Linked DNA regions of Homo sapiens. The protein of the gene in region 1 purifies or fractionates together with the protein of each later gene. This does not show direct contact. Each region holds a gene or a part of one and is shown on either strand. Other genes may lie near its edges.

Region 1 (5,210 bases):
TATTAAATGAGTTCATTTGTTTTAAGTGCTCAATCATCTTAGTTATTAATAATAATAAAAAATCAGTTGATGTGAAAGTGCATATTTTTGTAGAGACATATTTTGTGCCCTTAATTAGAAAAAAAATTCTCTTCAAAATTTAATATTGAAATTTGAAGACAAACAAAATTTTTTACTAGATGATAGTGGATAAAAAATTAGAAAGATGCAAGTAATTTAATCATTGCCTATTCTGAATTATCTACCACTTTAGGTCAATATATTTTCAGTACTCACATCAAATTTAAACCCTGTCCTGCTATGTTTATCACCAAAATCGTTTATAATGTGATAGGCTCTTATGAATCATTGAAAACACAACTTAATTTTTAATAATATACCTCACAAGTTAATGCTTTTAATTTGTACAAGATCTGTTAGTTCATAAAATCTTTAGAAACTTGGTTACAATTTAAAGTGCAATCTCAATAAGGGAACCTCTGAATATAAGAGATATTGTAGTATAATTCAAAAGGCTAACTGGGCAAAATTGGGCAAAACTGTGACATCAGTAAGTATGTTTTTGTTGCCCTATGTTAGTAGTTTTCAAACATCAGGTCAGAGACATTCATAGGTTATTTAATTCAGCACTCAATTTGGTGAGCAGGGTGATAGTTTAAGAAAGTAAAATAGAAGATAGGAGAAATAATAGGAAATAGTAGAGTTTATTACAAATACTGAGGTAATAAACTCTCTGTGTCTGTATGTGTGTGTTGATGCTTGTGCACGTGTGTGTGTACTAGATCACAAAGTAAAATGTATGTTCTACTGTGAGATATGCTCAAAAAGTGTGAAAGGTATGACTAACCTATAACATCCTTCTTGACCTGGACTCATAAGTTTCATTTTAATCCAATTTAGCATTTATTGAACTTTCTTAATTGATCTATCATATTCTCTGATAAACACGGAGAACATAGATATGAATAAACTTCTCTACATTTAAGAAGCTCATACCTTAAGAAACACTGCAAAGATAGAAATGACTTTGGCATGTGCCATTTGTTAGCAATATATCAAAATATGATCAAAAGCTTCAAACACAACTGAAGGAGTTGGCAAATTTTTTACATAAAGCAAATTTAGTTCTCTATCTGGAAGGATGAGAATGACCTTGGTGACCAGACATGAAAGAAGAGAGCATTTGTTTAAAGTAAAAGTAACTCTTGAGCAAAGCATGCAGGTTTGAAGTTGGGTGGCATGTTTAGGGAATGACAGATAAGTAAAATGCTTAAACTAGGAGAGAGGATAGGGACACAGGGGCTGAAAACGGTATAAAAGATAAGGTAGTAAAAAAGCTTTTGGACCAACATGTTATTTATGCTAAGGACAATACTTATGTTTCACAAGCAATGGAGTACCATTGAGAATTTCTGGAAACAGAAACAAGTCAGGTAATTTCAAACTAGGCTTGATAAAGAAATGCATTAGAATATAGTCTAGAATGGAAGAAGTAAATATCTAAGAGAAACTTTTTGTGTGGGAGTTAGCAATACCTACTGACTGAGAGTAAAAGGAAGGAAGAACCAAACTAACATCAAATTTTCAAGTTGAGCAGATAGAGCAAGATGCCAGTGACTAAGAATAGGTAGAAGTTAATCACTGCAGTTTGGGGTGAGCTGGTTTTGAGAAAACAGTGAAAAATGAAAGCCACTTATCCAGTAGACCAAATTTTGAGTTCATAAGAAAGAATCTATTTCACTAGCCTTTGAATGTAAGCTGGCCTAGTAACTTGCTTTACCCAATAGAAAGTGGTAGAATTGATATCATGAAACTTTCAAGCATAAGCTTTAAGGGAGGACTGGGGCAACTTCCACGTATGCCCCATTAGAATAATAATTATGAGAAGAAGCCAAAGCTAGCCTGCTGGAGAAACATGGCCCAATTAACATCCTGCACCAACCACAAGACATAGAGTAAGGCCATCACAGACAATTCAGCCTCAGTTGAGGCTCTGTTGACACAGGAGTAATTCCAAAAGAGAGCAGCAAAAGAGCCTCAGTTGAACCTATTCCAAATTGCTGATGTGAAAAGATGAAAAGCTTATCGTTTTAAAATGCTGAATCCTGGAATGGTTTGTTATACAGCAGCAGTTAATTGAAACACTTATATATCTCCCTTTATTCCACTAACTTGCTGATTATTACTTGTGCCACTAATTTACAGCTTCTATTCTCCCCTATTATTAGAAATCCTTTTATAAAGATATGATAGTGTTGGCTCCTCAACTAGATGGTAAATTCCCTTAACATAAAAATTATTTGTTTTTTTGTTTTGTTTGAGACAGAATCTCACTCTGTGGCCCAGGCTGGAGTGCAGTGGTGTGATCTCAGCTCACTGCAACCTTCACCTCCTGGGTTCAAGCAATTCTAGTGCATCAACCTAACGAGTAGCTGGGACTACAGACCTGTGCCAGCACACCTGGATAATTTTTGTATTTCTGGTAGAGATGGGGTTTCACCATGTTGGCCAGGCTGGTCTCAAACTCCTGACCTCAAATGATCTGCTCGTCTTGGCCTCCCAAAGTGCTGGGATTACAGGCATAAGCCACTTCGCCAGGCCAAAATGATTTATTTGTATCCTCAGCCATGCCATCAGTGGAACATATGTTTTATTAATATCAACTGATTACATTAAAAAATAATACAGAGAATAAATAAGCACTGAAGTACATTACATAGAATAAATAAAGACTTGGATCTAAAATACTGTCAAGATGTGGGAAAGAAATATTTTAAACCAAAGATTGCATATTTGATGTAGGCTATTTTAAAAAGCACTTAATAAATATTGAATGATATAATATGGTTATATTTTTACACATAAAAACAATTTGAGCATAATGAAGAGAGAATAGCTGAGAATTAGAACTTTCTTTTAAATTTAAAGACTTCCCCCCTTTTTTGCCCTGGTAAATAATTTTAGTTTTATTTCTTGTCTTTATAGCTTGCTCCTTTTACTTAACTTTTTTCCTTTGGTTTTTATATGTTTCCTTTTGCTCCAATTATACTTCACTTTCTACTCTTTTAAAGTTATGTGATGTTTTAATATTTGCTACTAAAATGCAAAGCCCATGCCTCTTAAGCAGCCGTAGGGCATGCTCAAAATAAATAAATCATGGAAAGAAAGTTCCTCCTTCCAAGGAAGATATTAGGTTGGTGCAAAAGTAATGGTGGAGTTTTGCACCAACCTAATAGCATTCCCAACAACCTCTGTGCTCCTAAGTGTGTATTCTTAGGTGTACCACATTGGTTTAGACTATAGTTTCTCATGTACTTGTTAACAGTGGAAAGCTAGGAATGTATGTTAATTAGGTCTAGCATTTGAACCCTTTTAGGAATCTGATTCAATTTCTCAAGATGACATATACTCTCATCTTCTTTGAATAATTTAAATATGATTTGCCACAGAAAATTATAATTGGTTTTCCCTGGAAATACTGAAGATGTCATCAAGTTATCTTCTAAAATATTGGTTTAACACAAACACACACACTCACAAACACACAGAGGAACTGAGAATGGTTTAAGGATATTAATATCAACAAATGTGACTTTCTATGTTTTGTATGTTCCAAGAAAAAACTTTGAATACATTGAAATTTAGTGTCCCCATTATGCTGGGAAACAACATGTTATATGTGGAAGGAGATTACACTTCCATTTTATAAAAATACTTCTCCAGATTATTTCACTTTTCTAATTGCTTGATAATAGATCTTTTTATGTGAAATCTTTTCCAGAAATGTAGAAGATGTTATCAAGGGTATATCGAGATTCGTTCAATGGCAGTGGAGAAATCCTGAAGCAGATACCAGCTGGCTTGTTCCTCTTCCTTTTAGTTCTATAATAAAAGCCAGTGTTGGCGCCTGTATCTTTTTATGTTTCTTGTTTTTTTTTTGTTTGTTTGTTTTGTTTTGTTTTTTTGACAGGGTTTCACCCCCCGATTCCCATGCTGGAGTGCAGTGGCGCAATCTCGGCTCACTGCAACCTCCGCCTCCCAGGCTTCAGTGGTTGTTGTGCTTCAGCCTCCTGAGTACCTGGGATTATCGGCATGCACCACCATGCCCAGCTAATTTTTTCTGTATTTTTAGTAGAGATGGGGTCTCACTAGTTGTCCAAGCTGGTCTTGAACTCCTGGCCTCAAGTGATCCACCCACCCACCTTGGCCTCCCAAAGTGCTGGGATTACAGGCATAAGCCACCTCGCCGGGCCAGTGCCTACATCTTAATTTCCTCTATGTAAATGGAGACGCCACCTAATTTTTCAATCTGCATGAGAGCATCAGTTATTTCCAATGTTTCAGTGTCAATCATCCCTACTTTTTGTGTACTAGCAAAGTAAAGTAGCTCAATCTGTCTTTTGATTCAACCGTAAGTGACATTGGTTAGATACCCATCATTTCAGTGAAATTATTTAGATTGGCTTGTTATTTGAATATCATCCTTGTAAGGTCAGATTCTACCCATGATAGCTAAGCATGTGATTGGCTTGGTGAGGGCAGCAGCAGAGGGAGAAATGGTTAGTATGAATACATGAATTTTGCTGACTTCCTGATTTTGCCTAAATACTTATCCAAAGTAGCTTTCCCTCCACTTCCCTTACCTACACCACGACATTGCTCTTTCCTAGATAATTTACAGCTATGCTGTAGATTTATTATTTGATCATTTTAATTATTTAATGTTTACCTTTGCATTCCAGGTTTACATGCTTTCTATCTCCCTTCCTATTTCTCTCCCACTCTTTCTTTTTAAACAATGACCATTTATAGAAACCAAGCAATACATTGAAACCTGCATAGTAAATGGCAGTGTCAAGAAACATACAAAGCAAGATTTCTCTCACCCATAGTCTCCTTTATTGACCTGTTCAATTAATTCTGAACGAACAAGGCATACATGCTGGGAACATTTCCATTGCTGTCCTGAGCATGTGCTGCAAAGATATGACAATTACAAAAGTGGCTTGGTCTTTATGAAGTATATTTCAATTAGTAAAAAGAGTTATACATTGTTAAGGCATAAAACATAATTTCTTGATTAATGTTAGCCATATGGTTATTTGATTCTTGGCAAAAATAAATTGTAAAACATACGTTAGCTACCACTCAATATGCTGTAATCCTCTACTCCAGGCAATTAACAAATGATATGATCACACATCTGCTGA
Region 2 (5,210 bases), on another chromosome or scaffold:
GAAATCTGACTCTAACTGGCAGAGAAGCAGGCTGACTACTGGCTGCTTTTCTGGGTAGGATGGGCAGAGGCCCTGAGGACGCAGCCTTGTGCCCGGTCAAGTGCCTGTCCACTTACCATGATGCAATGATGGCACTGAGGGCCTCCAGGACGTCGGCGGCGGCCAGGCGCTGCTGGGGGTCAAGGACCAGCAGCTTCCGGATGAGACACACGGTGTTCTCAGAAACCCGTCCATCCCTGAGGCAGGGAGTTGGGGAGGAGGGCTCAGTGGGTGGTGCTGGGTCTGTGGCCAGGATGCCCAGGCTCACTGTGCCGTTTCCCTGCCTTAAGCCCATCAGGCTGGCTGCCCCCCCCACCCCCCGGGAGGCAGGACTCACTCAGGAATGGTATACTCGGCAGCCTTGATCTTGCGGAAGAGCTCCTGCGGGATGCTGTCGTAGAAGGGGAACTGGCCATACAGCATGGTGAAGAGCACCACGCCCAGGGCCCACATGTCACTGGGCTTGCCACGGTACGGCCGGCCTACGGGCACACACATACCACACTGTCTTCAGGCCACAGCACCACCGTGGCTCACCAGCCTGGAATCCCACCTGGGACCCTCCACCTGCCACCCTCACTTCCAGTCCCCCCAGAGTCGTCCTCTGAGCTCCTGCCCGTGCTCCCCGCTCCCCTGTTCCTCAGGATGCACCTCTCCTGCCCCAAGGAGAGGGCTCACTCAGCACCTGCTCACAGCACCTGCCCCGCCCGGCCAGATGGCGAGCCCCTGGGAGCCAGGCATGGGTCTGCAGCCCCAGCACCCAGCACAGCAGCTCACAAGCAGGGGGTCAAGAACACTGGCACAGCAGATAACTAGCTGGCTCCAGATGAGCTGGCCGCTCCTCCTGTCACCGTCCCCACACCCCACCTGCCTCCTTCACAGCCCGGATGACTACTTGCAGGTCCCCTCCTTTGTCTACTTGTGACTCCCCGTCTCCCCTCTAGAAGGGAAGTTCTCAGGTGCAGGTGCCTCCCTGCGGTGTTCACTGCTGAGCCCCAGTGCCCAGCACGGACCCAAGTATTTGCTAAATGAAGGATGGCCACTTAATTCACCTCTCTGTGAGAGTTTCCTCATCTGTAAAGCGAAAAGGAGCAGGCATCTAACGGAGCACCCGCTTTAGGACAGCATGGGAAGAAACACTTTTATTTCACTAACTGTGCTCCACAGCTTGAGGACACTGAGGCCCAGTGATCTGCTCTGTCCAGGGCCACATGGCTGCTCAGTGGGCCCACATCTGACTGTCAGGCTCTGCTGCTTGCCTCCTTTCAGGGCAACCTGTCCACCCACCCAGCAGCAATACAGCCATTGTCTGACCCACTCCCCCAAATGCAAAATATGAAGACCACTGGAGCATTTGAAAGCTCTTGGCCCTGCCCACTCCCTGCGATGCACCCTCTGGTATACCAGCAGGCTGTGGCAGCCTGGACCCCAGAACACAACTCCGTTCTCCGTGGGTGTGGAAGAGACGCTGCCAGGCACCCTAGCGTCACCTCCCTGGGCAACCAGGGCCCAGTGAAGGGCAAGCAGTTTAACCGGGAGAGGGTGTGCCATGTGTGCATGGCAGTGCCATTACAGGCCTCAGCCTGCGTCTTCAGAAGGTACCACGGCACCTTCAGGATGGCACTGCCGCCTACAACAGAGGGCTGTTGTGGGGAATAAGCACCTGCCCTGGCTGGTATAGCAGGTAGTTCTGTGGAAGATGAGCTTCTCCCAAGCTCTTTCCAGGCTGTGTCATCCTAGGCTCTTTCCAGCGCCCGGTGCCAAAGAGCAGCTGCGGTGACTGTGTGGCTGACCCCATGGCTGACTCAAGGACAGCCCCCTTTTCCTAGAACTTGCTCCACCAAGTGGGGTTGCCAGTACAGAATCTATTACTTGTACCACCATTCTTAGCTCTGTATGGTTCCAAAAAAGGTGCTGCCTCTCCTCCCGTGGCTGGAAGATGCTTCCTGTTGAGCTGTCCTGCTGGCTTAGGCAGGAAGGATCTGCTTCCAGGACCTGTGTAGGGTTCCCTCAGCCCGAGCCTCTGTCCTGACCTGGAGGTATGAATGGCCCCTCCCCAGACAAACTCGCTGGGAGCCTGACCTGGGCAGGCGACCTTCCCTGGGCTTTGGCTTCTGAGGGGACACTGTACCCACAAGCTTCCCTTTCAGCAACGATCATGCCAAACACTAGGTTAAGGGCATTACATATATATATATATATATATATATTTTTTTTTTTTTTTTTTCCTGAGACAGAGTCTTGCTCTGTTGCCCAGGCTGGAGTGCAGTGGTGAGATCTCGGCTCACTGCAAGCTCCGCCTCCCAGGTTCACGCCATTCTCCTGCCTCAGCCTCCCGAGTAGCTGGGACTATAGGCACCCGCCACCACGCCCGGCTAATTTTTTTTATTTTTAGTAGAAACAGGGTTTCACTGAGTTAACGAGGATGGTCTCGATCTCCTGACCTCGTGATTTGCCCGCCTCGGCCTCCCAAAATGTTGGGATTACAGGCATGAGCCACCGCGCCTGGCTGGTTAAGGGCATTATTTAATCCCTCAAGTACTACTACTGCCATCCCTATTTTACAGATGAGAAAATGGAGGCTCAGAGAGGTCTGTAACTTCCCCCAAATTCACATGGTTATTAGCCAGACTATCACCTCCATGAGGGCCAGACCAGGCCTGCCTTTTCACAGCTCCATGCCCCATGCCCATGCTGGGCACATGGAGAATAAATGAAAGGGCAGACCTGGGTCGGAAACCCACATGGTAGGGCTGGTACTTCAGCTTCTAACCCAGGAGGGAGGAGGCTGAAGTCAGAAGGAGATTGGAGGCCGTGATCACACAGCTGGTTCAACAGCAAGGCCAGAATGAGAACCCAGGTCTCTGGTCTCCCAGTCGAGGATTCTCTCTGATTCAGTCAGATTCCTTTGTTTCATCCTCCAAGACTGGCACGAGTCTGGAAGAACCAGAAGGATAGGCTGCTGGCAACAGCAGGGAGGGCCACAGAGCCTCAGACTGCAAATGAAGGCCACTCTAGGCTGGTGCTGCAAGAGAGGAGTCCCATCCAGGGCTAGCCCACAGCCTGAGCCCTGCAAACAGGCACAGCCCCACTCACAGGCTGGGTGGAAGGAGGAGCCTGGCTCTATCTCCTATGGGGATGCTTTGGGGATTACTGTAGAGGGTGCCAGACTGTGCTGGGCCATGGGGGTGGTGCCCCAGGAGTTAGGGTATACCCCTGGCACCCAGTTCCCTCTAGCAGAGGCTGTAGTGACTCTAACCAAAACCCCCAGGTCTGGGGAATGGTGCTACTGTCTTTGCACACGGGCAGCCCTGGGGACAGGCCTGGCTCTCCAGCAGAAGCGGCAGCTGGGGGAGCCTCCGAGGGAGTTGTAAGTGCTTGTATTACAGCAGCCTGCTCACCAGGATGTGTGTGAAGAGCTGGGACGAGGCTGGCTCGGCCACTGCACGGAAAGGGCGCACTCATGTGTGGGGTGGGGATGAAGGATCTTGGAGACAACCCCAAGTTCTCCATGTTGGAGGGATGGGAGCTGGTGTAAGCCCCGGTTCCCTAAAGGATTTGGGCCAAGGACAAGGGGGAAAGAGAAAGCAACAGAGTCGACAGTGAAAGAGTTGCGAGAATGGGCTTTAGTGGGAGGCAGCCCTGGGGCTGCGCCTCCATTTTCCAGTTTACTATTTATTAGCTACGACTTTGGACAAGAGATGTCATCTCTCTGAGCCTCAATTTCCTCATCTGTGAAAAAAGGACTTAAGATAGATATTGGCCTCACAGGGTAGCTGTGTGGTTTAAACAGATAACGCGAGTCACGCTCAGCACAGTGTCTGGAACTTGGAAATCAGATCAGTGGGCAGTAACTTTATGAGTTTTTTTTTTTCTTTTTTTTTTTTTGAGATGGAGTCTCGCTCTGTTGCCCAGGCTGGAGTGCAGTGGCACAATCTCGGCTCACTGCAACCTCCACCTCCTGGGTTCAAGCGATTCTCCTGCCTTAGCCTCCTGAGTAGCTTGGATTACAGGCAACCGCCACCACGCCCGGCTAATTTCTGTATTTTTAGTAGAGACAGGGTTTCACCATATTGGCCAGGCTGGTCTCGAACTCCTGACCTTATGATCCCGCCACAGCCTCCCAAAGTGTTGGGATTACAGGCATGAGCCACTGCACCCGGCCTGTGAGTTACTTATTTGTTTCGTGTATTATCTGTCTCATCCCCACTAGAAAGTCAGCTCCATGAAGGCAGCAATGTTTGTCTACTTTGTTCCCTGTTGTCTCCAAAGTGTCTAGAACAGAGCTTTGGGCCTGGGTGGCCCTCAGCAAACAGTAACAGAATGAATGAACACAGACAAGGAGAGAGGGCTCTGAAACACAAACTCACAGCAGCACACTCAGTTAAGAACTGTTCAATGGCTTCCACTCGCACTTGAAGTAAAGGATGACATCTCTTACTGAGGCCTATGTCAGGCCTTGCCTGATCTGGCCCCTGCGCACCTCTCTGGCTTCCCCTTGAACCAGGCTCACTTTCTGAGCAGCCTGCAATTGCTCCAACGTGCTGTGCTGCCTCTGGGACCCTCAGCCTCAGCCTAGTCACACATACCCAGGGAATTCCTAGTTTCCCTTAAGATCATAGCTCAACTGTCACACCTTGTGGGGAAAGTCCTCCAAGCACCCTTCATCCACTCTCACAGCAATCCCGTTCCTCCCTAGCACTAACCTCAGAGGAATTAAACATGCATTCATGTTATCATTACGTCTTCCACCTCCAACAGACCAAACATTTTGTATGGGGAGGGACAGTACTGGTCTGGGCCCCCAGTGAAGCCCCAGCACCTTGCCCAGGGCCTGCCCACAAATTTGCTGAGTGGACTGTCACAGAGCCTGGCTGTATTGAGCTTAGAGGCCCAATGTCTGGCACACACACGTACCGCTGAGCACGTCGGGACTGATGTAGGCAGGGCTCCCTCTCTGGTCCTTCAGCAGGTCCCCCTCGCTCACCAGATGCTTCCCGAGGCAGAAGTTGGTGATGGTTATCCGATGTGTCCTAGGAGTGGGAGACAGAGTGAACAAACCTCAGTGTCTATAGCAACAGGCACAAGACACGCAGGCAGGACACACCTCACTGGGCCAACACCCAATCCTGAACAGTAGGAGGTAGGCTTCTCGTCAGAGGGTGAAGCAG

Evidence for each region. Proteins that work in one complex are often made in the same cells at the same time.
Region 2: the proteins of TINAG (region 1) and STK40 purify together in Homo sapiens (affinity purification with mass spectrometry; 2 studies listed by BioGRID and IntAct, with this or other methods). This does not show direct contact.

Annotation. Positions count from the first base shown.
Region 1 is NC_000006.12:54,321,063-54,326,272, reverse strand, and holds part of TINAG (tubulointerstitial nephritis antigen), read right to left. Parts: intron 4,977-5,210; coding exon 4,887-4,976; intron 1-4,886. UniProt on the Homo sapiens protein: Mediates adhesion of proximal tubule epithelial cells via integrins alpha3-beta1 and alphaV-beta3. This is a non catalytic peptidase C1 family protein.
Region 2 is NC_000001.11:36,343,744-36,348,953, forward strand, and holds part of STK40 (serine/threonine-protein kinase 40), read right to left. Parts: intron 5,073-5,210; coding exon 4,957-5,072; intron 522-4,956; coding exon 377-521; intron 237-376; coding exon 117-236; intron 1-116. UniProt on the Homo sapiens protein: May be a negative regulator of NF-kappa-B and p53-mediated gene transcription.